Linked DNA regions of Homo sapiens: all the other regions are linked to region 2. The links come from fine-mapping of genetic effects on gene expression. A gene starts in region 2. Each other region holds a variant in brackets. All regions are shown on one strand. Distances are between the middles of the regions. Region 1 has its middle 150 kb from the start of LINC02351. Region 2 holds the start of TTC23 (tetratricopeptide repeat domain 23). Region 3 overlaps LRRC28 (leucine rich repeat containing 28). Region 4 overlaps LRRC28 (leucine rich repeat containing 28).

Evidence for each region. PIP is the estimated chance that this variant, and not a neighbour inherited with it, causes the effect.
Region 1: its variant is fine-mapped to the expression of TTC23 in iPS cells (HipSci, PIP 0.95).
Region 3: its variant is fine-mapped to the expression of TTC23 in monocytes (TOPMed, PIP above 0.99).
Region 4: its variant is fine-mapped to the expression of TTC23 in esophagus mucosa (GTEx, PIP 0.98).

Annotation. Positions count from the first base shown.
Region 1 is chr15:98,271,003-98,279,146 of GRCh38, forward strand. No RefSeq gene overlaps it. Among named protein-coding and RNA genes, the nearest start is that of LINC02351, 150 kb to the right of the region's middle. The variant T/TGC (reference allele first, on the strand shown) is at 4,611.
Region 2 is chr15:99,245,965-99,254,106 of GRCh38, forward strand. It overlaps TTC23 (tetratricopeptide repeat domain 23), which reads right to left and starts at 3,617. Exons shown (of 14, transcript NM_001288615.3): 1 at 3,207-3,617. LRRC28 (leucine rich repeat containing 28) reads left to right here and starts at 5,517. Exons shown (of 10, transcript NM_144598.5): 1 at 5,517-5,577. RefSeq lists an enhancer at 4,992-5,041 and a silencer at 5,292-5,831.
Region 3 is chr15:99,277,364-99,285,363 of GRCh38, forward strand. All of the region lies in intron 3 of LRRC28 (leucine rich repeat containing 28), which reads left to right. It also overlaps the pseudogene HNRNPA1P62. Among named protein-coding and RNA genes, the nearest start is that of LRRC28, 30 kb to the left of the region's middle. The variant G/C (reference allele first, on the strand shown) is at 3,485.
Region 4 is chr15:99,382,846-99,390,967 of GRCh38, forward strand. LRRC28 (leucine rich repeat containing 28) reads left to right here. Exons shown (of 10, transcript NM_144598.5): 10 at 3,185-7,884. The coding sequence ends at 3,257. Among named protein-coding and RNA genes, the nearest start is that of LINC02244, 16 kb to the right of the region's middle. The variant A/T (reference allele first, on the strand shown) is at 3,517.

The DNA of each region.
Region 1 (8,144 bases), 970 kb before region 2:
ATAGCAGGAGGGAGGCAGGAGCACTCTGGGACAGCACCCAGGACTCTGAGAGAGGAGGCCCTGCCCTTGGGCCTTAGAGACGTGAAACTGAGTGAAGGTTGACGTTTCCTCATCCCTAGAAAAGCACAAAGGGACCCTGGGCTTCAGCCACGTCCTTCCATTTCAGCAGCTGTGTTAGGAAAGTAACTACCCAACCCTTGATATTTTTAAAAAATCAAATATAAAAATAAATTTTAAAAAGATGAATTGACTAACCTTTTCTCATTATAGAAAAGGGAGAGACACTTTGCCATGGGTAGTAAAGTATGATTAAGTGTAAAGCATTAGAGACAGAGAGGCCTGAATTTGGGTCTGCCACTGTGTTAAATTGAGCAAGTTATTTTTACCTTTTACCTCTTTTCCTGATTTGTGAACTGTATATAGTTGGGAGAATTGTTGTGAGGATAAGATGACATGATGTGTGTAAAGTCTTTAGCACATATTAAATGCTCAGAAGAAAATAGCCAGTAAATGGTACTTGATATGCTGTTATCATTAGCAATTATAGGAGCATGAGTTCATTTAAAAAAGCGGAACTGGCATTGACTGGATGGAATAAGTGCTATTGTTAGGAACAATATTAATATCATATATTCAATTGAAAAATATTGCTCTGTGGTCAGCGCCGTGTGTAAAACAACACACTTCGTTTCCCTCACACTTCCCTGACTCATCTCTGGCTTAGCATGTGTGAGTGAGATGACACTCACCGCACCTCCACCAGAGAAGAGAAGACCTTTTCTCCACAACGTTTATCAGAGCAAGACTAGATGGGATAAAGTGATCTGGTCTTCTGGGAAAGTGAACGGAATATATTTCATAAATAAATAGCAACTTTTGGTTTTCTTATTAAAATCAAAATATTCATTTTTGAAGTTTGATGAAATATCCAAGTATACCCCTTAACATATTCTTACACATCCAAAGAAAAAGTGAAAAGAGCGATCCCCTAAATCTTTCGATCACTTAATTTCACAGACTGGAATGTTTCTCAACACTTTGATTTTGAAGTGAGCAATCACTAATGGGCTGGATCAGAGGGACAAGAAACAGTTCAATCATCTCTAGGGATTGTCATAATAATAATAACTAGATGTTCATCATTGTAGAAGGACATCCTCTTTCCAATAGAATGATCTCTGCATTTTTCATATGACTATTTTATAATTGTTTTCATGCTAGACTGTTATAGTTTATTATATAATGATAATAATAATATAACCAGAAATTGAAAGGAAAGAGGGAAATACACATATACACGTACGAGACTGTGAACAGCTTTATTGCCCGATTATTTTTGCCACCTCCAAAACCTTAATAATCTTTTAGACGCAATGCTTGTCTCTAGAAAATGTTCTTAAGCATTTGACAGATGCTAATGCATTTTTTGCTAACAAGAGCAGATAATAAAATGAAATAATAAGTAGCCAGTTAATTTACCAAAAAAAAAACCTCAGAAATATTAATTCCTAGAAGGTGTTGGGAGTCGCAAAATTTCATGTACATCAAACAGACTCACTTTCTCTTAGTACAAACCTTTCCAGTCGGCTGGAATTACATATGTGAATATTATTCACACATAATATGTGAATAATACATTTCTGCTCCCTTGGCCTGACCTAGTGGAAAATCTTTAACCATTGAGCTTCTTTATGCAGGGACATTTCTACCTGAGCACTCTGGGTAGGATACACTTCTTTTCTCCACACCTGACCCCCTTGTGGTCACAGGGAGGTACGTATGGAAATGGTGCTGGCAGCAGGTAGACACCTTCCCCACATACCCTATCTTCTCTCTTCTTCCCCCCCTACTCCAGGCATCGTGGGGTGGGCGGATAAAGAGCAACCCAGGTGGATGGAGAGTGAAGCTAGGCTGGCTGGGGGGGTATCCCCGTGGGATTTCCTGACTCATGATAAAACAGTGGCACACAGAGGAACACACCCAGCCCTGCAAATATATCACAGTACCTTTGTTTTAGTCCAACTTTGGATGGAGTCTTCGGCTCTCAACTTTATGCCAGTGTTGTAAATTTAATTTACAACCTCAGAAAATGAAAATTCAATCATTACATGTGAAACCTCACTTGACTAAACTATCCTAGTCTATTTAACTTAATGGGCAACATATTTTCATGAGAAACAGCAGACAATCTATTAAAGTGACCTTAGAGATTTAAAGGGCATTAAAGGGCATTAAAATAGCAATGCTGCATCTGATTTTTTTTATTTTTTTATTTTTTTTTTATTTTTTTTTGAGACAGAGTCTCACTCTGTCACCCAGGCTGGAGTGCAGTGGCGCGATCTCGGCTCACTGCAAGCTCCGCCTCCCAGGTTCACGCCATTCTCCTGCCTCAGCCTCCTGAGTAGCTGGGACTACAGGCGCCCGCCACCACGCCTGGCTAATTTTTTGTTTTTTAGTAGAGACGGGGTTTCACCATGTTAGCCAGGATGGTCTTGATCTCCAGACCTCGTGATCCACCTGCCTTGGCCTCCCAAAGTGCTGGGATTACAGGTGTGAGCCACTGCGCCTGGCCTGCATCTGATTTTTTTTAACTTTCCAATTGGAATTTGTTTTTCACTGGAAAGGGAAGAAATTCTCTTTTCTTTTATTTCTTCTTTCTTTCTTTTTTTATTTTTCTTGTATTTTTATTATTTGTTTCTATAAAACAAATAGCTTTTTAGCATGCAGGACTCAAAATTTATGAAAACTTAAAAGACCTACCAACAGTCTGGTCTACTACTGATAAGTGGAAAGGAACAAGGAGACCCAGCACGCTCGGAGTCACATTCCGGCCTACCACCTTCAGATACAGGCTGTTATGGTCCTCTCTGTATCTGAATTTGTTTTCTTTTTTTTTTTTAATGTATTTATTTGTTTTATTTTAGATTCAAGGGATACACAGGTAGGTTTGTTACATGGATATATTGCATGATGCTGAGGTTTGGGCTTCTATTAAACTCATCATCCAAATTGTGAACATAGTCCCCAATAGGTGGTTTTTCAATCCCCACCTCCCTTTCTTCCCCCTTTTGAAGATCCCAGTGTCTATTGTTCCCATCTTTATGTCCATGTGTACCCGATGCTTAGCTCCCACTTGCAAGTGAGAACATGCAATATTTGGTTCTCTGTGTCCATGTTAACTCACTTAGGGTAGTGGCCTCCAGTTGCATCCATGTTGCTGCAAAGGACATGATATCATTCTTTTTTATGGCTGCAGAGTATTCCGTCGTGTATATGTACCATCTTTTCTTTATCCAGTCCACCACTGATGGACACCCAGGTTGGTTCCATGTGTTTGCTATTGTGATTAGTGTTGTGTTGGTATCTGAATTTCTAACACAAGCACAGAGCAGTTTGTGCAAGTCAGTGAACAGCATTTCTCTTTTGGATCCTCCAGCCATCATCCAAAGTCACAGTGCAACTCTGGACAAAGGCACAACATCTCTGAGCTGTTGTTTCCTCATCTGTGAAACAGGGGAAAGAGTCTCTACATGAGGCATTATAGGGAGGATTAAACAAAACACCATAATAAAAAGCATGCAGCACAGTTCCTGGCATTCTGCAGAAACTCCATACATAGTTATTAATGACTCCTCCTTGTCTTAAATAGGAGGGATGAGAACAAACACCTTGCTTTGTCCCAGTCTTAACCATGATGTCATTTGCAGATTTTCCTTAGTTAGCTAGATTCTTCTTTGACAATGTGGGAGCTAACATCTCACTATCTTATAAGATTGTTGTAAGATCCAAACAAAACAATGTGTGAGAGAACTTTATAAGCTATAGATTATTCTATGTCAGCTGTTGGCATTCATTGAATCACAAAAAAACTAAGGAACAAAACAAAAAAGAAAAGTACAGCACAGTCTGTGAAAAAGGATTGCCAAAATGACACATTTCAAAGATACACATTGAGAACACAGTTATTGTTTTTACTAATTAATAAAGTGGACATATTTCCTCCATTTGTGATGATACTATCCTTTTCAAAATTGATGATCCATTCAAAGCCAAACGCTTTTACATAAACTTAATATATTTTTGTTTATCAAAGACTGTTGTCATTCTTAAAAGTTACTTTTTATCAATCCTCCTCTACAGGATAAACTTTCAGGCAAGCTCAGAGTTCATTGGTTTTGGGATATCCCTTACCCTTTCTCTTTATCAGACAGTTGATGATACATTAGCCTCTGAGTGTGGTCTGCTCAGAAAGAAAGGGTGCCATAGTCCTGGACCTGGACTTTAAAACTAGGAGTGCTCTCTCTCTCTTTATGTCTCTTTCTTAAGGCTGCATTTATATCTCATCAGAGCAACATTCAAACCTGCCCACACGTAGGAATTTGGTGTTTTCTACTCTCTTACCGCCCTGGCGAAATTTTAATTTCAAATCTATGTATTTTTTCCCTTCTTATATAGTTGGAAAGAAAAAGCTCTTCTTCCCTTAGAAGAAGGGGAGAAAATCTCTTTGATGTTCAAATTTTCATTTGTGATTCAGAAACCTCCCTGCCCACAACAGTAATTGTAAACTCAAAGAGAAACTTGTTTGATAGGGTTTTGTGTGTGCGTGCGCG[T/TGC]GCGTGTGTGTGTGTGTGTGTGTGTGTGTGTGTGTGGAGAGAGAAACCTTTTTTAAATGATCAAACACGGATATAAAACCACTATAATTAGCTGGTTCAACACCGCACCATCCAAGTGGTGCTTGCTTTGAATTTTCAACCATCATAAGGCCGTGTCTTCATGGCTTTATACAATTACCCATTTTCACTAAAATAGGCTGCCTTGATCATTATTTCTGTGTAATCCATAAAATTAGTTGTGCCATTACTATGGTTGTTAACAATAAAGCATGCTAATTGGTGGTTGCAATCCAGAAATTTGTAGCTGGCTTAAACCAGGCACAAAAGGATGGAAGAGCCACAGTCCTGATGCAACCAGGACAAAGTGTGATGAGGCAGTAAAGGGAGGTGAGTGGAGCTTATGTCTTAACAGGAACAGATACTTCTGCTGTACTTGCCAAGGGAGCTGTGTCCTGCCTGGGACGGAGCCAGGTTCAATCTGTCCAAAAGCCCTCCTACTGCCATGGCGGAGCCCCAGAAGCAAGCCCAGATTTGCACTAGAGGTGACAACACAGGAGACTGAAAGAGGTTCAGTGGACACATCAGATAGGCTGATGAAAGCTGGAGTTCTGAATGGAACCAGGACAGACCTGGAGCCCCACCAGGAACTGGAACTCAAGAGGGACTCACAGTTGATAACAGAACCAGCCTCCAGTGCATTAGCACGTGGGGGCCCCATACTGGCCAGCTCCACATTTGTTGAGTGGGATTTAGTCTATTTTCTGGAGTAATAATTAGAAAGCCCCAAATTGCTTTCAGGTGTTGACCAAAATAAGCATTTGGGCCATCTGTCAACTGAGTCAGCGTTTTACAAAGCAAAACCCCCTTTAGAAGGGTTTCCAAACTCAGGCCGAGTCCTCTTGGGAGGTTTCCTAAGTTTCACAGGCATTCACACTAAAAGTTTCCTCCACATTCCGAACGGTAGCAACCGTGGTGTCATCTGGGCCTATTTCATCCTCAGCGAAGAGTCAGATAGGAAATTATGGGAAATCATCTTTCTCTTAAGTGCCTCAAAAAACGACTGTGCAGGGGATCTGCAGTGGGCTGAATGTTTGCGCCCACCCCCAAATTCATATGCTGAAATCCTAACCCCCAAGGTGATGGTACTAGAAGGTGGGGCCATTGAGTGGGGATTAGACCACAACAGTAGAGCCATCGTGATGGGTTAGTGCCCTTACAAAAGGGACACCAGAGAGCTCTCTCATTTTGCCATCATGTGAGGATACCAGAAGAAGACAGCAATCTGCATCCTGGAAGACAGGGAGCCCTCCCCAGAACCTGACCATGCCAGCAGCACCCTGATCTCAGACTTCCAGCTTCCAGAACTGAGAGAAATAAATGTTTGTTGTTTGTAAGCCGCCCAGTCTGTGACACTCTGTTTTTGTCAGCCTGACTCAGATGAGACGTAGGCAGTTCTAGAGTGGAGACAAGGCACCACCTCCAGGAGCAGCACAGCACACTGCCAAGGCAAGCTCTGGAATGGCCCCACGGCCAATGGATATGGCTGCCTCTGCAGCCTCCCAGATGGTGGCAAGAAGAAGACAGGCAGGCTGAGGTCGCTACAATTAGGTGGAGGCAAGGGAGGTCGAACAGGAACCCACGTGAGCCCATGAATGGCTCTACGGCAGCCAGGAGGACAGTTTGTAGGGAAGCGCCATCGGGTTCTATCCAGCTGTAAACCCCCATCAACCTGGAATGAGCCAGAAGAGACTTAGCAAAACTGAGTGGAGCTGGGAGATAGATAAATATATCGGGGGATAGAATCAGAATCCAAATGTGAGTGTCCATAGAGATTGTCATAATCGCACACAATGAGTCTAAAATGTGGATGAACATACAGCTCTTCACTTGCATGTAGAAGTCAGGGCTCAATCCTAGGAAGGGAATTGGAGGAGGAATGTGATTTCTTACAAAGAGGATGCATCAAAAAGACTCGGGTTCTGAAGTGAACAGAAAACCTCATCATGCCATTTCCTACTTAAAAGGGCTTGGCAACAGTGCAAGGCAGAACCCTGGCCACGATTCACAGGCCCTCTCAAGACCAGGCCGGCTCCAGCATCTGGCCTCCTCCTAACCTCCTCTGGCCTTGCTCTCTCATCCAGTCCCTCCTATCCAGGACATCCAGTCATTCACTGGCACACCACGCCCTTCCTCGCCTTCGGGTTTTGGGTGTGCTGTTCCCTCTCTAGGTGCACTTGCCACACCCCCTTCCCACTCCTGCTCTACCTGGTGAGCAACTGTGCAGCCTATAGGGCTCGACTTCAATGCTTCTTCCTCAGGGGGCTTCTCCCCACAACAGAACTAGATATGAGCCCATAGCCTATGTATTAATATAATCCCATCAATGTCTGGCCTCACCTTTCCTAACACAGTGATTCCTCCATCCAAGTGGATCTTCCTCATCACACTGTGAACTCTCTGCAGGTAAGGGCCACATCTGTCTTGCCCACCGTGCTATCCCTCGTGCCCAGCACATCATAGGACCCGATTAATAGTGACTAGAAATCAACACTGATGGTTAGTGTGATGTAGCTGCCAAAGAAATCAAAATGGTCTTGAGATGCATTAATAAAGCTAATTAACCTAAAGAGCTTCTGCACAGCAAAAGAAACCACCATCAGAGTGAACAGGCAACCTACAGAAAGGGAGAAAATTTTTGCAATCTACTCATCTGACAAAGGAATCTACAATGAACTCAAACAAATTTACAAGAAAAAAACAAACAACCCCATCAAAAAGTGGGCAAAGGATATGAACAGACTCTTCTCAGAAGAAGACATTTATGTAGCCAAAAGACACATGAAAAAATGCTCATCATCACTGGCCATCAGAGAAATACAAATCAAAACCACAATGATACTGTCTCACACCAGTTAGAATGGCGATCATTAAAAAGTCAGGAAACAACAGGTGCTGGAGAGGATGTGGAGAAATAGGAACACTTTTATACTGTTGGTGGGACTGTAAACTTGTTCAACCATTGTGGAAGTCAGTGTGGCGATTCCTCAGGGATCTAGAACTAGAAATACCATTTGACCCAGCCATCCCATTACTGGGTATATACCCAAAGGATTATAAATCATGCTGCTATAAAGACACATGCACATGTATGTTTATTGCAGCTCTATTCACGATAGCAAAGACTTGGAACCAACCCAAATGTCCAACAATGATAAACTGGATTAAGCAAATGTGGCACATATACACCATGGAATACTATGCAGCCATAAAAAATGATGAGTTCGTGTCCTTTGTAGGGACATGGATGAAGCTGGAAACCGTCATTCTCAGCAAACTATCGAAAGGACAAAAAACCAAACACCGCGTGTTCTCACCCATAGGTGGGAATTGAACAATGAGAACACATGGACACAGGAAGGGGAACATCACACACCGGGTCCTGTTGTGGGGTGGGGGTGGGGGGAGGGATAGCATTAGGAGATACACCTAATGTTAAATGACGAGTTAATGGGTACGGCACACCAGCATGGCACA
Region 2 (8,142 bases):
CCTACCACCACGCCCAGCTAATTTTAGTAGAGACGGGGTTTCACCCTGTTGGCCAGGCTGTTCTCGAGCTCCTGACCTGAGGTGATCCACCCGACTTGGCCTCCCAAAATACTGGGATTACAGGTGTGAGTCACAGGGCCCAGCCTGTTAGGCAAAGACTTCTGAGATATAACACCAAAAGCATAAGTGATAAAAGAAAAAAAAAGATAAATTAGATTTCATCAAATCCAAATCTTTACTGCTTCAAAAGACACTATTATTAAAGTTAAAAGACAACCCACAGAATGGGAGACAATATTTGTAAATCATTAATCTGATAAAGGACTTTAACCACAATATATAAAGAACAATTAAAAATCAGTAACATGGGGCTGGGCGTGGTGGCTCACGCCTGTAATCCCAGCACTTTGGGAGGCCGAGGTGGGCAAATCACGAGGTCAAGAGTTCAAGACCAGCCTGGCCAACATGGTGAAACCCTGTCTCTACTAAAAATACAAAAAATTAGCTGGGCATAGTAGTGGGCACCTGTAATCCCAGCTACTCAGGAGGCTGAGGCAGGAGAATCGCTTGAACCTAGGAGGCAGAGGTTGCAGTGAGCTGAGATCGAGCCACTGTACTCCAGCCCGGGTGACAGAGTGACACTCCGTGTCAAAAAAAAAAAAATTTATTAACATGGGCTGGCGCGATGGCTCATGCCTGTAATCCCAGCACTTTGGGAGGCCAAGGCAGGTGGATCACGAGTTCAGGAGTTCGAGACCTGCCTGGCCAACATGGTGAAGCCCCGTCTCTACTAAAAATACAAAAAATTAGCTGGGCGTGGTCGTGGGCACCTGTAATCCTAGCTACTCGGGAGGCTGAGGCAGAAGAATTGCTTGAACCCGGAAGGTGGACATTGCAGTGGGCCGAGATCGTGGCACTCTGCACTCCAGCCTGAGCGACAAAGCGAGACCCAGTCTCAAACAAACAAACAAACAAACAAAAACCAAAAAAACCAAAAAACAATCAGTAACAAGATGACAACTCAATTAAAAAAATAGGCAAAATATTTGAAAGACATTTTACAAAAGAAGATATATGGATAGTCAACAAGCACATGAAAAGATGCTTCATATCGTCAGTCATCAGGAAAATGCAAATGAAAGCTGTAATAAGATACCACTTAAAATCCAGCTGAATGACTACAATGAATAAGACAGATCATAAGGAGTGTTGGTGAGGATGTGGACAAATTGGAACCCTCATACACTCTGGTGGAAATGTAAAATGGGAAATTCACCTTGGAAAGCAGTTGTGCAACACCTTGAAAAGTTACACCCAGAGTTACCATATGACAGTAATTCCACTCGTAGATATACACCCAAGAAAACTGAAAACACACGTTCATACAAAAACTTGTACCCATCTTCATAGCAGCATTATTCATAATGCTAAATACTGTACTGTATTTACTGTAATACAATTACAATTAGTACAATTAAACACTATATTTAAATACTAGAAGAAATCCAAATGTCTGTTAATTGGTACTGTTAAATAAAATGTGGATTATTACTTAGCAATAAAAAGGAATGAAGTAATGAGACATACTACAACATGGATGAACCTCAAAAACATTATGCTAAGTAAAAGAAACTAGATGCAAAGGATCGCATAATGTGTAATTCCACTTACATGCCCAGAAAAGGTAAATTTATAGACAGAAAGTTTTTTAGTGATTGGGGCTGGGGATAGGAAACCAGGACTTGCCTGCAAATGGGCACAAAGTATTTTTTTAGGATGATGAAAATTTTCTAAATTTTCTAGGATGATGAAAATTTTCTAAATTTTCTAGGATGATGAAAATTTTCTAAATTTTCTAGGATGATGAAAATTTTCTAAAATTGGAATGTGGTGATGGTTGTGATTTTCTAAAACAATCATTGAGTTATATCCTTAAGACAAATGAACTTTATAATATATAAATTATACTTCATTAAAGCTGTTAAAAATAGCTATGAAACCACAACGCAGTTTTATGTGTAATTCTGGTTTTTATACATATTATGACAAGACTTTTATAAAGACGGGGCAACCATGACTCCCCAAGACAGTGTGGCAGCGGTCCCCAAAAATCTTAAAGAAGTAAACTCAATGCTTTCGAAGACTACAAAGAAGTGCATCAAAATTTATATTATTCAACAATGATAAGGTAAATGTATTCGGGTAAGAAGCATGGTTACTAACCTGTGTGCCAGTATTTACACAGCATGGGGCCCCTTAGCTTCTGGTCTCTGCTCTGGTCTAGCCATCTTAAATTCCACTGTCAGTTTTATTGTCTTCAAATATTACTTTCATAAGGGGTGCCTCCTGTTCCAAACACAGGACCCAAACCCCTGATTTTGGGAATTCCGGCTCTTTATATTTCTCATGCTGCTTTTTAAAATTTGTAACCAAAGTTTCCAAATGAACCTTCTGCCGCAGTCAGAACCAACTCTTCCTCAGGCTGCATGTATTTGCTAACAACTCACTCACTAGTAGGGATGCCACTTCCCTTATTTTTCTCTCTGAAATTCTGCCCATTGCTCAGGCCCAAATTGAGTCTTACCCATACTGTGAAGCCTTCTCTGAATAATTCATCTCACATTGAGCTGAGCTCCTGAAGCACCTGTGCTCTACAACAGTCATCCGGGCATTAAGAACTGTTCAGAAGTTTTAGTTTAAATGTTCTGAGCCTCATTTGTCCCTGCTCTTGAGGGGCTGGATTTTATTACTTTATATTCCCCTATATGGATTAACACAGGCAACTTAAGAAATAGTCATGTTCATCAACGTTTCCTTGATAAATTCTTTTGTATTTGTTTTAATTAAAAATGTCATTTTTGAAATATGATTGCTGGATTTTTTTGAGAATTTACCCTTACATGCTGATTCTGCTTCAGGTATCTGTAGTATGTTTTGTTCAGCCATTAGCAGATCTGTCCCTGGAATCCCTAATCCACAAATATACACAAAATTTGGGTTCAAGCAACTCTATTTTCTCCTATATCTTTTAATAGATATATTATCTATTATGCCAGGTATGACAATATATAAACAAAAATATCCATATAAAAATTACAATATTACTAAATGTCCTTCTAAATCCACACTTAAGCAACAATAACGAAGCACAGTTTCTTAAAGTAGAAAATGATCTATAGTTAATCTTATTATCTTGCCTCCTTTACCTTTCAAAAATCCACTGATAATCTGGGCATGATGCTTTCAAACTTCACCCTAAAGAGAAAAATGCTCTCTGAACACTCTTCTTCCTGCTGTCTTTAAATTGTGCCTGTATTTTCTCTGCTTTTCCTTTGACACTCAATCACTCCTTTAAAACTTGTAAAAAACCGGAAAAGTTTCTGTAACTCTCCAATCTCCAACTATGTCGTAAAATCCCTTGCCAGTTTACCCAGTCTGCTGGAGAGGCTCACCGTTTCTTTTTCGAGCGAATTACACAGTTGTCTTGGCAGCGTGATTTGCCCTCTGGTTCCTGCTTTATCAGTTTGGTGATTCTTTGTACAGATTGATAACCATGAAAAAGTCTAAAGTAGGGCAGTTCCGGAGCAGCCTTTTCCCATAAAGCAAGCGGGTACCTCACAAAACTCCAGGCAAAAGAATGAATGATAGAGCACTCACCAATAGCGAGTGGAGAAGAGTATTTTGTCGAAGTTTGCAAACCAATCTTTGGGAGCCAGAGGTGGGAATTTTAAAATGAGGTCTTTTCCTTGGAATTTTCTTAAAGTGGTATCGTTGCCTGTTGATATTGAAGTTTGTCAAAGAACGTGAAATCACCAGCTTAGAGGATTTTTTTCCCCTTTAAGAGAGACAAAACGTGCGAATTGATTCTCTACAAATTGTGAGAACTTCAAGAGTGGGGTCATAAAGTATTATCAAATATAATCACTTGGTAACTTTTGTGTCAATGTGGGGAGGAGGTGAAGGTTATTTTAACATGATTCATTTTTCATGATCAAATATCAGATATTAATCACTGAAAAACAGTATTCCCCATTAAAAAAAAGAAATGAAAACTAAGAGGCTAACATTGTTTTCAAAAAACTGTTCTACTGTTAATCTTTTTTCTTTTTTGGGGGGTGTAACTCTTCATATATTAGCAGCAAGTCTTATTATTTGGGCTGACCATTAAACACCGTATCTTTGTTTTTACACAAAATGTGGATTTCCTCATTTTAAGACCAGCAAAAAATTTCTGAGTGCCACGAATTCTTAGGTATTCCGAAACTATCTTAGAAATACATGACATATACCAACCATGCTGTATACCTGAATAGCTCTTGAAGACCAGATTTAATAGATAACTGATAATTTTTATTATAACTCATACCTTGTTTTAAAACCAATGTTTTTTATTTAATATAACTCTGCTTTCTAGGTTATTCGTCTCTATGAATAATTAAGTCAGCAACTGTAAAAACTACTTCATTATAAAGTTAAAGTTCCTTGACAAGGAGCCTCGCAAACTCATAGACAGGCTTTCCACAGAACAAAAAATATCAGCGGTTGTAGTAGAGGATTATACTTTAAAATCTTCATTTCAGAAGGAAATTTGTCATATTAATGAGACACTTTAAAAAGTGTCTTTTAAAAATGTTTCCGAACTATGCTTCCAAGTATTTTTAACAGCATAAAGCCCTCTTTCATGCTATTTCGCTGACATAATAATTTTCGTCTTGAAGAAATACATATTGACGGCCTACTCAGTCAGGCTAGGAAGTGTCATTGTATTTAACTCTCTAAATTGTTCCTGACCTTTTTAGCAATCTTTACTCAAAATAAACCTTGGGTGTTTGAAGGGCAGAGACTAGGTTACGTCCTCCTCATCTTTGTTATCTACCAGTTCGTAGTGACCCCTTAAATCCGGTGCTTAGACTCACTACTTGCTAAATAACGTTGGCTTCGTTACATAAACCCACTGGCCTGTTTTTCAACGGTCAGACTGGCGCTGTTAGTCCCTGTGTCATGGGATTGCTGTCAAGGGTTCAACGAGATAATCTATAAACAGCTCTTAGAACGAACGCTCAACGTGGGATCATTGTTGTAATCCCTCAACGTGTGCTCTGAATGAGAAGCCGAGTGACTGAATGAATGTATGAATGAAGGAACAGGTCAGTAACTGGCGGTTCCCGAAGTTGGAGCCGACTAAATTACCCCTTCAAGACGCTAAGCAAAAGCCACTCCGTCGACATCAAACCCCACGCCGGAGCCGGAAGCAAGAGTAGAGCCGCGGGCGGGGCCAGCATAGAGGAAGTAGCGCTCTCGGCCAATACACAGATCGCTTGGCAAACGAGCATTTTCCCGCGCCTATCGTGAAAGCGCGAGAACACAGGGGATTATCGCGAGGTTCCGTGCTCCTCTCCCGCTCCCTCTTCCCCAGCTCCCTCTGGCGCGGGTTCCGCTCCACCCCCGGAGCCCCGCCCCCGACGCCCGGCGCTCCGCCCCGCCCTCGCCTGGCTCCCTGCCCCGCCCCGCCCGCCGTCCCCCGCTTGGCTTCCAGCGCCGCTTGCGCTCCGGAGCGCTGGCTCTGCTGGCGCTGAGGTGAGTAGAGCTGTCCGCCTCGTCGGGTGATTCAAGTGGCGAGGCTCTCTGACCCGGCCCCCCGGCGGGGACGCCCCAGACGTGGTCCTGCCAAAGCGTCCGGGTCGCGGCGAGTGGGACAGCGGAGCCGTCCGGGCCTCGGGTGGCCACAGCTGCCGGGTCCTCCTCCCACTCTGCGGCCCGCGGCCCCTGGGACCCGAGAACCCTGATACCGGGTCCGTGAAATCCCTGCTGCTGGGCTCGCTGCTTCCCAACTGTAACGATCTCAGTGGCTGGCTAACTCGGGCGAAACGGCGTGTGTTTTGCCTAAGACTCTGCCAGTGTTTGTTACCACAGCTGAGAAAATAGCCTTTTACAAATGCTTTTAATATGTAGCTTATAGTTCTCTAATCTCCAGCGTTAGGAAATTGGAATGCGTATTCTACTAAATTGAGTACGGGGAGGTCAGTATAAGGGACTCCTTCCTTTCAAAATACTCCTTAATATGTGTGGAATTTTGTTGAGAGGTTTTTGATTTTTTTGTTTTGTTTTTAATAATAAGATAGATTGGTGTTCACCTGTCAGAAAGCTCGTGTGTAAGTGCAGCTGTATACAGCTGATATTAAGTAATACTATTTGCCTTAACTACATAAGAGGTAGTATAACTATACAAGAGGTAGTTTGCTTAACTAGGTAAGATGTAGTCAAGTGAAATGGGGTAAGAAAATTACCTTGTTAAAGGCTGTGTATGGCCCGTGAATGCATACTGCAAAACTGTGAGCATTGTTGATGCTTTATTGCTATTATTGGCAGTTTTAGGATTTCATTTGTTTAGATTTTATCTCCCAAACAGCCTTTGTAGCAATTTTAACAGAGTGTAATGGTGTTTTTGAGGCAGCCAATCCCAGCCAGAACATTCAGAAGGAAAGCCGTCAGGTTACAGGGACTGTCTTATTGAATCTTCCTTCAGTGAGTGTGGTTTTGCATTATAGGGCGGCGGTGCACACGCTTTGTAGTCAGTCCACCTGCGATGGAACTATGGCATGTTACCCTCTGAGAAACTCAGTTTCCTCCTCTACAAAACGGGCTACATAATGTCTATTGCAGTGCATGGTTGTAAAGATTAGACATCCTTGTGGCATGTAGCAAGCTTATAGGCTCTATCCGTGGTCTTGACATAGTTGGATGAAAAATCAACCTTGCAATGTTCTTCCACATGTCATCAGATATTAGAAGGCCTACTTTAAAATTTTAAGTCCCTGGATACATGTGCAGAATATGCCGGTTTGTTACATAGGTAAACGTGTGCCATGGTGATTTGCTGCACCTGTCAACCCATCACCTAGGTTTTAGGAAGGGTTACTTTTAGTTACTGTGCTAGATGCAGGTATGCAAGCGTGAAGAAAACAACGCAGTCCCTGCCCTCAGGATTTCTAAATAAGTTTCGGAAGGGTTTATTTACAGGCTTTTTGGCTTTATTGACAATAGACAGATGCAACGATAAATATTTAAGTGACAAATTGTGAGGAGTCCTACGAAGAAAAAACAAACAGCCAAGTTCCTCTGAAAGAACACCAGGGGAATTACTTTGGGATAGGGAAGTGATTTTTTTTTTTTTAAGACTGAGTCTCGCTCTGTCGCTCAGGTTGGAGTGCAGTGGTGCGATCTCGGTTTACTGCAAGCTCCGCCTCCCGGTTTCAAGAGATTCTCCTGCCTCAGTCTCCCGAGTAGCTGGGATTACAGGCGCCCGCCACCAAACCCAGCTAATTTTTGTATTTTTAGTAGAGATGGGGTTTCGCCAAGTTGGCCAGGCTGGTCTCGAACTCCTCACCTCAGGTGATCCACCCTCCTCGGCCTCCCAAAGTGCTAGGATTACAGGCGTGAGCCACTGCGCCCGGTCTCAGGAAGTAATTTTTATGTTGAAATCTGGAGAATGATGGGACATTGCTTTCTAGGCTAAGAGGAGACCAGCAAGTGCTGTTAGGGGTTTAGTAGCTTTGAGGATTGGAAAAGCCCAGAAGCTTGGTGAGAAGCCAAGCAGAGTTGCTGGAGAAGTGGGTGGGGGCAGATGGTGAGGCACCCTCAAGGCCTAGTATGAGTTGATTTTCTAAGTAAGAAGTTTCTGAAGGGTTTATTTAGTAAGATGTGTACCGAAAAGAGTGAGATGTAATTGGATGTACATTTTTAAAGGCCCATTGCTGGGATTAATGTGTTGGAAGTGACTAGAGTGGACACAGGGAGACTGGTAATACTGTTGGCCAGGCAGGAGATGACTGTGGCTTGTGGTTTTGGCAGATGGAGAGATTTGGATGGATTTGAGATGTATTTGGGAGATAGAGGCCACTAGCCTTGTGATAGATTGGAGGTGGTCAGAATATGAAAGGATGGAATCATTCATGACTTCCTGCTTCTCCGGCTTGAGCCACTGGGTGGATGGAGGGGTGAGCCATTTACTGAGATGGGAAAAACTGTGGAGATTCGGATTGATGATGAAAATGGAAAGCTCTTTGAATGTGTTAAGTTTGAGATGGTTGTGAGACATCTAAACTGCTAACAGTTTCCTAGTTCAGTGAATAATTACCTATG
Region 3 (8,000 bases), 31 kb after region 2:
ACACCCGTAAACCCTTCACCTAAATTTAACCAATTTTGACATTTTGCAACATTTGCTTTCTCTTTCCCTTTTCTACCTGTCTCCTACCCCTCTGCCCCCTCCCCCAAGCTGAATGATTTGAAGGTAAATTACAGACATAATGTCATTATCACACCTAAGGAAAGTAATATTCAATATAATTTAATACACAGTTCATGTTTAAATTATGCAAGTTTTCAAAAATAATGTATTTTAAAAGTAGATGTCTGAATTTACTGTATTATTTGCTCTTGATTAGATTGATTTAAACATTTTTTGTGGTGTTTGACCCCAAAACTTGCTTTATCAAGTTTTTGCTTTCATCCTTTTGTATGTATGTATATGTGTATTTATTATTTTCTGAAGCTTTTGTGAGTTATGCACATCATGGCTTTTTCTTTGTCTCTAAATAAGTATGTATTTCTAGGAACAAAGATGTCTTTCCATCTTTTTAGTCTACTTTTGCATCCTTTAGGTACTTTATAGTTTTCTTTAAAATAGGTTTTGAAGATTTCTAAAGTCTGTTACTAAGTATTTAATCTTTTTTTACTATCGTAAATGAATTTTGTCATGTTATATCTTCTAACTGGTTGTATTTTGTATATATGAACAATATTGATTTTTGCGTGTTAACTTTATATCCTGGTATCTTGCTGAAATCTTTATTGTTTCAATTAGTTTTCATGATAGATTCTCTATAGAGTTTTCCAGGTATACTCTTATGTTGGAAAATACAGATAGTGTTACTTATTCTTTTCCAGCTGTTATCCCTTTAATTACTTTCTTTAGTCTTATTGCATTGGCTCGTTCCTCTAGACAATGTGAAAGTGTCCTGGAGAGAGTGGACATCCTTGTCTTCTTTCTTTTTTAAAAAAAAATTTTTTAAGACCGAATTTCACTCTTGTCACCCAGGCTGGAGTGCAGTGGCACAATCTTGGCTCACTGCAACCTCTGCCTCCCAGGTTCAAGCAATTCTCCTGCCTCAGCCTCCTAGTAGCTGGGATTACAGGCATCCGCCACCACGCCTGGCTAATTTTTGTATTTTTAGTAGAGACGGGGTTTCACCATCTTGGCCAGGCTGGCTTCAAACTCCTGACCTTGTGATCCACCTGCCTTGGCCTCCCAAAGTGCTGGGATTACAGGCGTGAGCCACTGCACCTGGTCCCTTGTCTTCTTTCTGATCTTGCTGGGAATGCCTCTAGGGTTTCCCCATTAAGAAAGATGCTGGCTTTACAGTTAAAGTGTCTGTAGTCTATTGTGTTAAGCAAATATTCACCTTTTTAATTATCTATTGCTGCTTAACAACTTACCCCCAAATGTAGTGATTTAAAAGAATAAACATTCAGTGTCTTGTATTTTCTGAGGCCCCAGAATCTGTGCCTGACTTAGCTGGGTGCCTTTGCCTCCAGGTCTCTTACGAAGCTGCAGTCAAGGTTGTTGGCCAGGACTGCAGTCTCATCTGAAGATTTAACTGAAGAAGGATCTTCCTCTATTCACGTGGTTGTTGTCAGGTTCAATTCCTTGTAGGCTGTTGAACTGAAGGACTCCATTTCTTGCTTGATGTTGGCTAGAGCACTTCCCTCATTTCCTTGCCATTTGGCCTTTCTGTAGGATAGTTCACAACATAGCAACTGTCTTCCATCAGAGCAAGCAAGCCAAAGAGCAAGAGAGAGTATACACTTTCCCACAATCCCTGGTAATCACTAATGTACTTTCCGTCTCTATGGATACACGTTTTTCTGGATGTTTTATATTAGTGGAATGAGACAATATGTGACCTTTTGTATCTGGCTGCATTAACATAGCATAATGTTTTCAAGGTTTATTCATGTTGTAGCAGGTATCAGAATTAATTCCTTTTTATGGCTGAATAATATTCCGTTGAATAGATACATGACTTTTTGTTTATCTGTTCATCAGTTGATAGACATTTGAGTGGTTTCCACATTTTGAAAGCTTTTCCTTTTACAGTTTGTGGTTTGTCAGTTGTTTGTTACAACTGTTTCAAGCAGCTGTGAAGTTAAACAATTGCCTGTAATTTGTTTCAGTTTACAGTGGTTTTTGCCCTGGGCAATCTGCTACTCAGACGGAATAAAGACAGCCTTGCAACTGGGTCTTCCAGGGAACCTTGAGACAAATCTTTGACAGTTCTCTGAGAAGGAAGCTTTGAAGGCACTCTAACGTGGTCCTACCCCCTTGCTACTGCTTTTCTCTTTGATTGTGAACTGTTGGTTTTTCAGGCTTCTGCAGAGCAGGAGAGTGGGGTTAGGACTAGAGCAAGCGAAAATACCATGAAGCCTACAACCCACGGTTCTTACTGACGCTCAGTCATTTTTTTCTTGGATAAATTCTCCCTGTATTATGGTAAGCCTTAGGTTCATTTCCAGAGTTCTCAACATGTAGCATTTGGACATTTCTGACAGTTTCTCATTGTTTTTATGGAAGAGAATTTTTGGAGGTTCTTACTCTACCACTGTTGCTCAAAATTTTTAGTTTTGTAAAAAACTGCCGGTTTACCAGATTAGCTGTTCCATTTTACATTTCCCCTGGCAATGTATGATTGTTCCAGCGTCCGCACATCTTACCAGCATTTGGTGTTGTCTTTGTTATTTTAGTCATTTGGATAGATATGTGGTTTTTATGACATTGGAATTTCCATTTGTATTTCTAGAATGACTAATGATATTGAACATCCTTTTGTATACTAATTTGTCATTGGCATCTTTTTTTGGTGAAATGCCTGTCCATGTCTATTGCTCATCTTCTGATTGTATTTTTTTTAATTTCTGAGTTTTAAGAGTTCTTTGTAAACTAGTTTTCTGTTCTATATGTTGTTTACAAATATTCTCTCCCAGTGTATAGCTTGTGTTTTCATCCTGTTTATGTTCTTTTGCAGAGCAAAAGTTTTACATTTTGATGAGGTCCAGTTTATCATTTTTTGCTTTGATGTGTCATGCTTTTGATGGCAAGTCTAAAAACTCTGTGTCTAGCCCTAGGTCCCAAAGACTCTCTCCTTTCCCCGCCCCCACCCCAAAGTCTTACAGTTTTTTATTGTACATTTATCACCTATATTTTTAAAATTTTTTTCTGGGATTAGAATTCTTAGTGACCATTTTTTTTGTTGTTGTTGTTATCAGCACGTTCATGATATTCATTATTCCCTGGCGTGCATAGTTTCTGAAGAAACATCTACAGTTGTTATATTTGTTCCTTTGTGTGTATGTGTCTTTTTCTCCCTTGGGCTACTTTGAAGGGTTTTCATTTTTTACACTAATTTTAAGGGTTTGATTTAGGTGTATCTTGTTGTAGTTTTCTTCTTTCTTACCTTTGAGGTTCATGGGGTTTCTTGGGGTTGTGTCTTAACAGTTTTTATCAAATTTGGAAAACTTTTGACATTGTTTTTTCAGATATTTATTTATATACCCTGTTCCTGGCCCCTGCTTGTGGAACTCTTACCTGTTTGTTA[G/C]ACTGTTTAATACTGTCTCGTAGTCACTAAGACTTTTCATTTCCTTTTCAGACTTTTATTCCCTATGTGCTTCAGTTTGGACAAATTGTATGTTCTGTGTTAAAAGTCAGTAATATTTTCTTCTTCAGTGTCTAATGTACTATACTAATCCCACTCAGTGAAGTTTTCTCTTTGGTTACTGTATTTTTTTTTTTTTAAGGGACAGGGTCTTGCTCTGTCGCCCAGGCTGGAGTGCAGTGGCTCTATCCTAGCTCGTTGCAGCCTTGAACTCCTGGGCTCAAGGGATCCTCCCATCTCAGCCTCCCAAGTAGCTAGAAGTACAGGCATGCACCACCATGCCCAGCTAAATTTTAAATTTTTTCATAGACATGGGGATTTGCTGTGTTGCCCAGGCTGGCTTTCTGTGTGTGTTTTTGAGACAGGGTCTTACATTGTCACCCAGGAGTTACACTGGAGTGTTGTGATGCAATCATGGCTCACTGTAACATCAAACTCCTGGGCTCAAGTGATCCTCCTGCCTCAGCCTCCCAAAGCTCTGGGATTATGGGAGTGAGCCACTGTGCCCAGCCTGTTACTGTATTTATGATATTTGGAAGTTCTGTTTATTTTTCTTTATCTTACAGTTCTTATAATGTTCATATTTTCATTTAAATAGCTGAATATAGTTATTATAGCTATTTTAATGTCCTGTTTGCTAATTCTGTCATCTGTGTCATACTGGTTCTATTTGTACTGACTGATTTTTCTCCTGGTTATGGGTCATATTTTCCTGATTCTTGGCATGTCTAATACTTTTTGATTGGATGGACCTTATAAAGTTTGCATTTTTGAGAGTCTAAATTTTATTGTGTCCCTTTTTTCTGGCATGCAGCTATTTGCAGTTTACTTTGATCCTTTTATGGCTTATTTTTATACTTTGTTAGGATAGGTGGTTAGGTTAGCCCTATTACTAAAGCATGAGCTTTCCAGGATCTCTCTTGAATACCTCAAATGATCAACAAGGATTTGGCATACTTGCTCAGAACTTGAATGTCTCTCAACACTGTGAGCTTTGCAGGCTGTTCAGCTGATTGATTTTCAGGTGCTTTTTGCCTGGAGTACCTTTTATTTTTCTTCTATTATTTTTTGAGATGGGGGTCCCATTATATTGCTCAGGCTGGTCTTGAATTCTTGTCCTCAAGTGATCCTCCTGCTTCAGCCTCCCAAGTAGCTAGGGTTACAGGTATGACCCATGACCCACTGTATCCTGTTAGAGTTTTTCTTATGTGTGTTTGTTCTAGAATTCAGCTATGAGTGAGGCCAAGGGATTCCTTATGCAAATTTTTGGAGGTTTTTTTTTTTTTTGTAGCAGTAGCTCTCTCTTCTTCAGAACTTTACCCCACAACTTCCAGTTGCCTCAGGTTCCCTGAACTCTGATATGTGTCTCCATAACTCAGTAAGACTTCTGTACTTTGGGATTTCCTTCCTGTTCTACAGTCCAGAATTTGCCCCTAGGGTGAAAGCTAGGGAGATTGTGTGGCTTACTTCCTTTCTCTTAGGGAATGTAGTCCTAGTTGCCTTTGTTAATATCTGAAAATAATTGTTTCATGTACAGTCATGCACAGCATAATTATGTCAATGACAGGCCACATACATAATGGTGGTCTCATAAGATTATAATACTGTGTTTTTACTGTACCTTTTCTATGTTTACATATGTTTAGATACACAAATACATCGTGTATCAGTTGTCTGATTGTGTTACAGTTGTCTACAGTATTCAATACGATAACATACTGTCCAGATTTGTAGCCTAAGAGCAACTACACCTTGTAACCTAGGTGTGTGGTAGGCTATACCATCTAGGTTTGTGTAAGAACACCCTATGATGTTTGCATAACAAGGAAATCACCTAACGACACATTTCTTAGAACATATCCCAGTCATTAAGTGGCATGTGACTGTATTTCATCTGGTTTTCTTGTTGTTTAGAACAGTTGGGAAAATCCCATTTACTCCATTGTTGTTATTCATCCTGACTGAAAGTAGAAGTCCTGTTTCTTTAATTAAAAATTTTTTTTTTTGAGATGGAATTTCGCTCTTGTCGCTCAGGCTGGAGTCAGTGGCAACATCTCAGTGCACTGCAACCTCCGCCTCCTGGGTTCAAGAGATTCTTCTGCCTCAGCCTCCCAGGTAGCTGGGATTACAGGCATGTGCCACCATGCCCAGCTAATTTTTGTAGTTTTAGTAGAGACGAGGTTTCTCCATGTTGGTCAGGTTGGTCTCAAACTCCTCACCTAAGGTGATCCACCCACTTCGGCCTCCCAAAGTGCTGGGATTACAGGCGTGAGCCACCACACCCAAACTAAAAATTATTTTTTAAAACTTTTTTTATTTTGGAACAATTTTATATTTATAGAAAAGTTATAAACATAGTATGGGTCATACTGGTGTACCCCTTACCCAGTTTGTCCTGTTGTTAACATCTTAGAATTCCATGGTACAGGCCAGGCATGGTGGCTCATGCCTGTAATCCCAGCACTTTGGGAGGCCGAGGTGGGTGGATCACGAGGTCAGGAGTTTGAGACCAGCTGGACCAACATGCTGAAACCCCATCTCTACTGAAAATACAAAAAAAAATTAGCCGGGTGTGGTGGTGCGCACCTGTAATCCCAGCTACTCAGGAGGCTGAGGCAGGAGAATCACTTGTACCCAGGAGGCAGAGGTTGCAGTGAGCAGAGATCGAGCCACGGCACTCTAGCCTGGACGACAGAGGGAGACTCCTTCTCAAAAAAAAAAAAAAAAAAAAGGAATTCCATGGTACATTTGTCAAAACTAAGAAACTGACTCTGGAATATTCCTATTAAGTAAACATCATATTTAACATTTAAAAAAAACTGCCAAGCCATTTTCCAAAATGAGTATACCCCAAAGTGACATTCCCCACCAACAATGAATGAGAGTTCCTGCATTATTTGAGAAGAGGAACATTTTATTTTAATAAGAACATTGAAACATCAACATTTCAACTACTCTGAAATTACCAAAATTAAGTAAAAGGAAGTGACTTAAATTTGAAAGTCCTAAGCCTGTGATTACAAATGACTCATAATAACTATAATAACAATAATAAGAGCATTCATTTAACTCTTACCAGGAGCCAAGCACTGTTCTAAGAGCTTTACATTTATTAATTCATTTAGTCCCTGCAACATCACAGATTAGGAGAGAGAGCAGTTCAGTGATTTCTCCATAGTCACATGGCTATTAAGGTGCAGGTAGTGTGGCTTCAGAGCCCGCTCTCTGATCCACTTTACCAGTAATGGTTCTTAATCGGTTGTACATCAGGATTATTTGAGTTGAGATGGTGTTTCACTTGCTGCAGGATGGTTTTGGGTACCAATAAGACCCCTGGTGATTCTAATGTGCAGTCAGGATTGGCAACACTCTGTTATCTTTTTTTAAAGATACATTTATTCAGCGTCATGATCACACTACTATATTTAGCAATCAACAGCATGAGTGCAAAAAAAAAAATCTACATTAAAACCCTTTGTTGGACTGCTTTACACTTTCCACAGAACAGAAACTAAAATAATACAGTTATTCACAAATACAGTCCTCGAGTTTTTTGCCCATATACATGAGTATTTGTCTAAACCATGTCTTCTTTGTAGCAGGTAGGCCCTGCCACCACTGTGCTTGGCTGAGTTCACAAAACTGTTGTAACCTGTAGCTTCCCTGTCACTTCTCTTGCTCTCCTTTCCTGCTAAGCTTTGTTTCCTGGCAGTAATTAAAATCTTCTGACACTGCCATAGCTGCTGCTGCTACTGGAACTGGCATAGCCACTTTGGTTTCATGGTTTGGCCAAGTATTGGACTCCACCCCCATAGGAGCCAGAGCTTCTGCCACCATTGTCCTCCCTTCATGGGTTCAAAATTTGAAGACTGACTATTGCAATTGTCAAAATCATTGTAGCTTCCACCACTTCCAGAATTGCTTCCATCATTACCAAATCCATTGTAGCCATCCCCACTGCCACCATATCTACCATCACCATGGCTGCCACCAAACCCATCATGACTGCTGAAGTTTCCTCCACGACCAAAGTTGTCATTCCCATCAAAACCACCTCCACGACCACCATCAAAATTTCCAGAATCACTTCAGCCTCTTTGGCTGGATGAAGCACTAGCCATCTCTTGGCTTTGATGGGGCTTTCCTGACTTCACAGTTGTGGCCATTCACATTATGGTATTTCTGAGTGACAGTCTTATCCACGAAGTCATGGTCATCAAAGGTTACAAAATCAAAGCCCCTTTTCTTGTCACTGCCTCAGTCAGTCATGATTTCAATCACTTCAATTTTTCCATACTGTTCAAAATAATCTTAGGTAATGTTCTTCAGTGTCTTCTTTAATGTCATCAACAAATATCTTTTTCACAGTTAAGTAGGCACCTGGTCTTTGAGAATCTTCTCTTGAGACAGCTGTCTTTAGTCCCACAACTCTTCTGTCCACCTTGTGTGGCTTTGCATT
Region 4 (8,122 bases), 140 kb after region 2:
TTATACTAATTTTCTATCTAGTATATCAGTTGCTGAGAGTAAGGTATTGAAGTCCCCAATTCTATTTTTGGATTTATCTATTTCTCCTTTCATCTCTCTTATTTCTTAACAGCTTTATTGAGATAATTCACGTATCATACAATTTCACCCATTTAAAGTATACAACTCAGTGTTTCTTAGTACATTCAGCGATATGCGCAACCCTCACCCTAATCCATTTCAGAACATTTTCTCACCCATACGGAAACCCTGAACATTTAGCTCTTGCCCCTGTCCCTCTGTCCCCATCATACCTAGCCCTAGGCTTATCTACTTTCTGTCTCTGTAGATTTTCCTGTCTCTGGCCTTTGGCTTGGGGGCATGGGCTTTACTTGGAGCCAATTGCATCTGTGCCTGTTACTGATTCTGGATTGGAGGCTTCTACAGCATCCTATTTAAGATATAGAGGGCAATAAGGTACCCAGGGAACGTGCCAGCACTGCGTTGTTCCTCAAGTCCCACTGTCCCTAGGCTGTCTGCCTTGGTTCTCCCTTTCAAAGCTTGCCTGTGCTTATTTGTTGTATTTTGTCCAGAGTGTTTCAGGTGGAGGGGGGAAGACCTGGGAAGAATGGGGCCTACCCCATCTTGGCAGAACCAGAAGTTCCACCTAAATATATTTTCCCCCAAAATCCAGAGGGATCCACCAAGTGTGTGTCTGTTTCTCTGTAGTGGGCAGTTCTGGATACAACTCTTCTTTTCCATTTGAAACTGCACTGATGTAGTAGGCATATGAACTCTTGCAGGATTTTTCTCTCTCACCTCTGATAATCGTATATCTATGAAGGCATCAAGGGTGCTTGCTACTTCCAGTTTGTATTCCCCCTTGCAAATACATTTAGGCTTAGGGAAGAAAAAGACTTCTTGGCCCTCCTGGAGATTTTCAGGAGGTGGCTGAGCAGGGTCCGCCACCCTGGGTCCTCTCTGCATTCCCATTTATCCTCCCTCTAGAATCTGCAAGGGGAGTCTAGCATAGCTGTCTCATTAGCTGTTGGCCTGCAATGAGTCAAGGCTTCTGTTAACCATTCCCAGGTGCTTAATGTATCATATTCTGAGGTATAGGTGAAGTACCCCTGTTGGCCTGATCCAATCTTACATTCATTCTTGCTGGCCAATGTACTTAGAATCCGTTTCCATGCGTGCCCTCCAGGTTCCTGCTAATATAATTTGACAAGATCCTGCAACTCCATCAGCGTGTATGTGATTTCCTCCAGGAGTAGACCTTTCAATGATCTCTGGATCATGCTAGGATTTTACCCTTTTTGGCCCTAGAGGCGATGAGTATTGATGGTGGTGGGTCCTGAAAAGTTTTTAGGTAACCACCCCAGGGGAAGCCATTGAAACATTTTTACCCAAGGGAATGCTAGTTTTCGTAGAAGGTGGAAAGGTCTGTTTCTGATATGAAGAAATGTTTAGAGATGCTAGGGAGTCAAGGCTCTTAGATTTGTGCCTGTCTAGAGGCTCCCATATCAAGTCTCAAGTTCCCACTCTTTCTCAACAGCACCTTTTACCTTAGCATAAGAGACTTAGCATAAATATATCTTTATCTGGCATGTGATCCTGAAACCTCTACATTTAGCCTCAGCCATGTCCCTTGCAGCTTCATAAAATAAGGATTCACTTAAGGCCACCATAAAAACTTTCTGATTCTCTGTCCATGCCTTGAGTTGAGATCTCAAGGCACTAAGCTTATTGTTTTCGTTTCAGAATCTCTTCAGCACAGTCAAAAGAAGCCATCTCACCCCACAAACTTGGAATCACCGTGATGCCATAGCAGTCAAGTGCCACAGCCACTTGCTTTCCCAATGCCTTTCCCTCCTGTTACCTTCTGTTCCAGTGATATTTGAGTAACCATGATGCCACCACATGCTACAGATTAGCAGGGTCCCACTTCTCTCTAGTAAGAAAGCCATTCGTGTACTCGCCAGCCCAACTTCAGAATCTCACTTGGATGAGCTGCTTCGTTGGGCCACTTCTCATAACACATACTGTATTCATCAGGGCTGGAAAACAAAATGCACATTTGGCTGAGACTTTGAAGAGAAATTAATGAAGAAGGACAATTGGCTGAAGTTTGGGCAGGGTGGAGAGCACCCAGAAGGATACTGAGGCACGCAGGGACTCACAGCAGTAGGAAGCCCTTACCATGCTTAATCCTTGGGCCTGAAGGGCAAAGGGAGCTCTCTCTGGAGCCTGGCGAGAACCAGAGGTAGCAAAGGGGGCCTGCCTGATAGGAGCTCCAGTCCCAGAGGTAGAGAGGGAGTGGGGTGGAAATACTCAACCTTCCTTCTTCCTGCCCTTCAGCCCCCTGCTGGTGCCTCCTGCTGGTGCCTCTCGCTGGCCTAACCAGAAGCTAGAGTTGAGGCAACTTTGCTGGTAAAGTCTACAGAGGTCCCCTTCCTGGGCCACAGGGAAAGGCGGACTGTGTTGGGGGTGAGGAAATAGAAAACAATCAGCACAGGGGGTCTTGTGGAAACAACAAGAGAGTCTTCTCCCTCTACCAGAGGATAGCACTTCTGGCAGGAAAACAAGGCATCTAATAGCTGGAGCTGTCCAGAGTGGGTCAGAGGCCCCCTGGGGCTCATGACTCACGCACAAAGGTGCCCAAACCTCTGATATGTGGGAAGACCTTTGAACTGTATTATTCAGATTCTGAAATGACCTCTACGAGCAACCTATGTGTATGCGTACATTTGTAGGATAAATTCCTTAAAATTATGTTGTTTAAGCTCTGTGGTATATATGTGTTCTGGCTAAATTGGAGACATTTTCTGTTACATGATTTTTATAATGGACTTCAATTCTGTGATTGCGTTGTTGGTTCTAGAAAGCAGAGTTCGAAACGTAATGTGGAAAAGGCATTTGTTTTTTTTTTTTTTCTTAGTTTCTACTTTAGGGATAATATATCTTCTGAACGCTGCTATTAAAATGAACATTCAAAAAATAAATAAATAAAATGAACATTCACATGTACATACTTCACCTGATTCCAGTGCTCAGTTTGAAAAGGAAATTTAAATTTCTATTATGCAGTTTGTTGACCATGGCTAATCCTCCATTTTAACAAAGAAAAAAGTTTCCAGCAGAAAGAATCAGAGACTTTAATCTTGAACTCACAGCGTTCTTCTCTCCCTTTTTCCCCTTCCAGGAAGACAACTGTTAGTTTTGTGGCTTACTGCTGCTCCACCCAGTGTCTGCAGACTTTTGACCTGCTGAGTTGATAAACACTCAAGAACCTCAGGAGCGCTGCCAGCTTGACACTGGGGAATCCAGCCAGTCCAGCACACTCTTCCATCCTGTCCTGTCCAATGCGGGGGCACTGCAGAACTCTCTAGAAATGTCATGATTGAGCTTCAGAGCTAAAATGCCTTCACCCTTCCCCCAAGTTGGAATATATCCTCCCCCAAATTAAGGACCCATTTGTCTTCTGTGTTTTTCCTTTTTATGTGAGTGTGTCTTTTACAGAAACCATTTAGATTG[A/T]TGGGCCTCCCCAAATCTAATTTAAAGCAAGTTTCCGGTCCTTGGAGAACAGTGACTTGATCATCTAGCCAGATTCCCTTTTGAACACACATACCTTCAGTGATGCTTCCTCTCCTCTCCCCTCCCTTGCTTTCCCCAGAGAGTTATTTCCCTGAGACCATGTTCTCCACAGTGTCTCCAGTGGAAACTTGTCAGTTTTTGAGGAGTTTCAGCAAACCCCGTGGCCTCAATGGTCTTGAGTAGCAGGGTGGGGCGCCTGAGTTGGCAGCAAAGTGAGGCTCCCATGGAGGCTCAGTGAGGGTCCCAGAGCACACACCCTCTGGAAAGTTCCAGCCTTGTTTATACGTTCTACAGTGTAGCAACAGACTTTTGTGAGGGATTTTAAAAACAAAAATGTAGATTGTAATGAAATACACTTCCTGTTTTTTAAAAGTGTTTGCAGAAAAATGATTTTTGAAGTTTTTAAATTTCCTGATAAGATTTTTTTTATATGAGAAGAATTTGAGGAATATTTGAAGCTTTACAAGATCTGATTTTTTTCTTTCTCAATATAAAGTTTCCATACAATGAGAAAGGGGGAGAAAACACACATTGAAATAAGACCTCCGTGTTCTTTTTTGATGGGTTTATGATTCAGTTTATACTGACTTTGAAATATTTTTGTCACATGTGAAAGGCTTCAGCTACTTCCACTACTGGTTTTTTTTTGTTGTTGTTGAGACGGAGTCTCGCTCTGTCGCCCAGGCTGGAGTGCAGTGGCGGGATCTCGGCTCACTGCAAGCTCCGCCTCCCGGGTTCACGCCATTCTCCTGCCTCAGCCTCCCAAGTAGCTGGGACCACAGGCGCCCGCCACCACGCCCGGCTAATTTTTTGTATTTTTAGTAGAGACGGGGTTTCACCGTGTTAGCCGGGATGGTCTCGATCTCCTGACCTCGTGATCCGCACGCCTCGGCCTCCCAAAGTGCTGGGATTACAGGCGTGAGCCACCGCGCCCGGCCCACTACTGGTTTTTAACAGGATGATTCAAAGTACAGCCCGTGCACATTTACTTCGTCACCTGGTGCACCACACTGTCTTCATGTTGGCCCTCGTTTCTTGTATACTTAGCTTACTGCCCAGATGCAACTGAGAAAATACAGGAAAAGCAGGTCCAAATTCAGCCTTCGACTTCTGCAAAAGTCCATAAACAGAAAGTCTGTGAGCCTCCACCCTGCCAGAAAGAACTCTTCATGAAGAAGTCACGTATTTGCTCTTCCTTTCAAAGGATGGCATTTTAATGTTGCTTTGCTGCCAGATGTTCATCTGCTTGCTGTGAAGTGATTCTTTTTTTAAAATGTTTTTTAATGATGTAAGTTTTCTAAAAGGCAGGGCTGAATGGAGAACCAAGAATTTGCTTGGTAGAAAAATTATTTTTTTTTAATTTCAGACTTATCAAAAATTTGGTTGAGGGAATTTTTATTAGCTGCCCTGACTTTATAATGCTACGCTCTTAACAGTGCCAAAAATCCTACATAGTTACTGACAAATGTGTGATCTTTTTACAGTCACAACACCTGCTGCCCGGAAAGCACACCGTCCACGTAGAATGGAGAAGGCAGAAAGTTACCGTGTGTTCCCACTGTATCTGCACTGTTCTTACTTCCTCTTGTCCCTTTTCATATCTTGGTCTATTCAGCCTTAACATTTCAAAGGCTTATAGTAAAATAGGAACTGAAGATCTGTATCAAAATGTAACACTTTCATCCTTTGGAATAATTGAAGTTTAACATAACCTCTACATGTATATAAGTTAGCTGGTGAAAATGTGGCATGAAACTTCACAATTGTGCTTCAGGCCTAAGTGACTGCTACCTATGATTTAAGTGACAGTAAATGTCTTGCTACATTTTTCTATTTCATCCTCTACAATCATATGTCATGGAATGGAGCTATGAAATGTGCTAACTTGGTATTCAGGATTCTCATTGTGATAAGGTGATACATTAGTTTTACCTTGTTTGAAATTTTACAAAAATGCTTACAATCCAGGCATTCTTTCTCTACCTATTATGAACTACGGTGTGTTAAACAACAGCAGTGGGCTGGGCAGACAACCTTTGGGCAGTCTCAACCTTAATCCTTGGGTACAGCACCTGAACTTAATTGATGAGAAGTGGAACTTAAGTGGTTTCCCTGGTGCTGTTCATTATGGAAATTTTATGCTGGATTTATCGATGTCATTCTTAATCTTTTGATACTATAAAGGAGTCTTACCAACTGGAGAAAATTTGCCTACATGCTATATATTTGAATTGTGTCCAAAGCTTTGCAGAAAAGCAAATCTGAAGTTATTATATATGTTGTTTTCTTGAGCAACAGTTACACTAGGTAGAAAAGTATTCACACAATAATAGTAATGCAAAAAAAGTGAGCTACTTGGAAAGTATCATCTCTGTTCAGGTAAGTTTACTTCAGTGAACTCTTGTGTGGTTAGCGATAAGTTTTAAAGTCCAGGATAGCCTCATGAGCATAGGCCTTCCTATGAAGTAGTGCAAAGGGGGCCGATTTTAGTGGATTACCCTATCAGTGTTCTTCAGTATGTCCAATTGTTATCATACCAAAAACCTTAATTACATAACATTGTGTGGATGAAATGCTGCATCTTCAGTTAATACATGTTTTGAGCACATTCTTAAAATACATAATAATTAAATGATCCCTATTCAAAAGAACCCTGGCTTGGGTGGAGGATCCACTCTGGCTAACGGATAAGAGTGATGAACTTCTTTGTTACCTGACCCTTCTCTTCTGGAAAAGTGAGGTGTACATTAAACATCTTTTGGTCACCGTGCCTCACTAAGACCTTTCACATTCCAGCTTGTCCGACTAGTGTAATGTACCTCTCACTTCTGTTTTACGTTGAGCATTACGAATTAAAATCTTTACAGTCTAGGGGGAAAAAAAGGCTTCAATACCAGTTGGCTTATGAGGCTCTGCATATAATTTTCTCTAAAATATGTAACTATTTTGTAGTCTGTGGGGACTTTCAAAGCCAATTTTTAAAATTAGTAGTAGTAAAGGTTTTTCCCTTTCCTGAATGAAAAATCAGAAATTCTAATCTTTGCTATAAAGTACTTAAACACAATACATTGCCTCAGCATAAATAAAAACATTTTTATTAAGATGATTTATGAACATGGATTTCTAACTGGACCAACACTAATGTTGCAACCTGATAAAATTTGAGATGTAAATTCATTTCACAGACTCATAAACACACTCTCTTTAAGACTCTTCTTTAAATGGATCCTTACATTACCCTGCCTGTTTTATTATGCCTTCATTTTTGTGGTTTTCATTCACTCCTGCTTGCTTCTATTGAGGTTCTCCTACATTTCCCAGAAACTCAGTGAATATCTTGCCTTTTCTTCAAACAAAGGGGGTTTTTATAAAGTTTGTATTTTTGAAACTAGCTCTATGTCTATCTAAAAATCAAGTCTCGGCAGTGGCTCATGCCTATAATCCCAGCACTTTGGGAGGCCGAGGAGGGCAGATCATCTGAGGTCAGGAGTTTGAGACCAGCCTGGCCAGCATGGTGAAACCCCATCTCTACTAAAAATACAAAAAATTAGCCAGGCGTGGTGGCGCGCACCTGCAGTCCCAGCTACTCGGGAGGCTGAGGCAGGAGAATTGCTTGAACCCGGCAGGAAGAGGTTGCATTGAGCTGAGATCACGCCATTACACTCCAGCCTGGGCAACAGAGCGAGACTCCGTCTCAAAAAAAAATCATTCAAGTTTCACTGTGCCTACAGTGAGGAGCTACCTCCTTGTGTCATCAGCTAATAGATCTGAAAGTGATGCCGGTGTCTCTAGGAAAGGAATTGATCATAGCCAAGTGACTGACATTCTCTCGGTCAGGAAAAGAGCTTGCTTCACAGCCTTTGAAGTATGACTGTATGTGTGGTCCCCTTGTACTTTGGAGACAGAAGGTACTGGCAGCGAGTGTGGTGGATGGGCAGAAGGTGTAGCATTCGGAGATTATTTCTGTATGTAATTAAGAGACTTTCAAGGGTTAGCCAGACTTTTTTCCACTCAAGTGTGGATTATCTTTGCTACCTGTGTTAAAGAATATCAGGTTTTGTTTCTTATTGTGATTTTTGAGTCTAAATGATCCAAGATTTTTAAAATAGATACATAATGAAATCCAGGCCTCTGAAAAATTATGGCAACATTCATTTGGAGTGTGGCTAAAAACTCATACTTTATCCAATTTGGTTGCCTCTCTCAGTTACTGCAGTTTATAGAATAATTGAGCTTGAACCATGTGAATGCTCAGAATGTCAATGGTGGAGTATTTATTCAAGAGAAATGGCTGAATCTCGATACGAACAACGAGTTTTGTGGTGTTTTAACTTGCCCTATTCCTATCTCCCCCTTCCGTCTCTGTTGTATCCTTGAAAACCAACAGTATACAATGAAGGTGAAAAGTAGCAGCCTGGAAGCCACTAGAGGGGGCAGAATGGGGTTAGAACTCCTTCAAAGCCTCATTCCCAGAGAATTGTCATTATTTGACCTGGCAGGCAGGTCCCTGGAAGACCTCATTTGCAAGACTGTCTTTATTTTACCG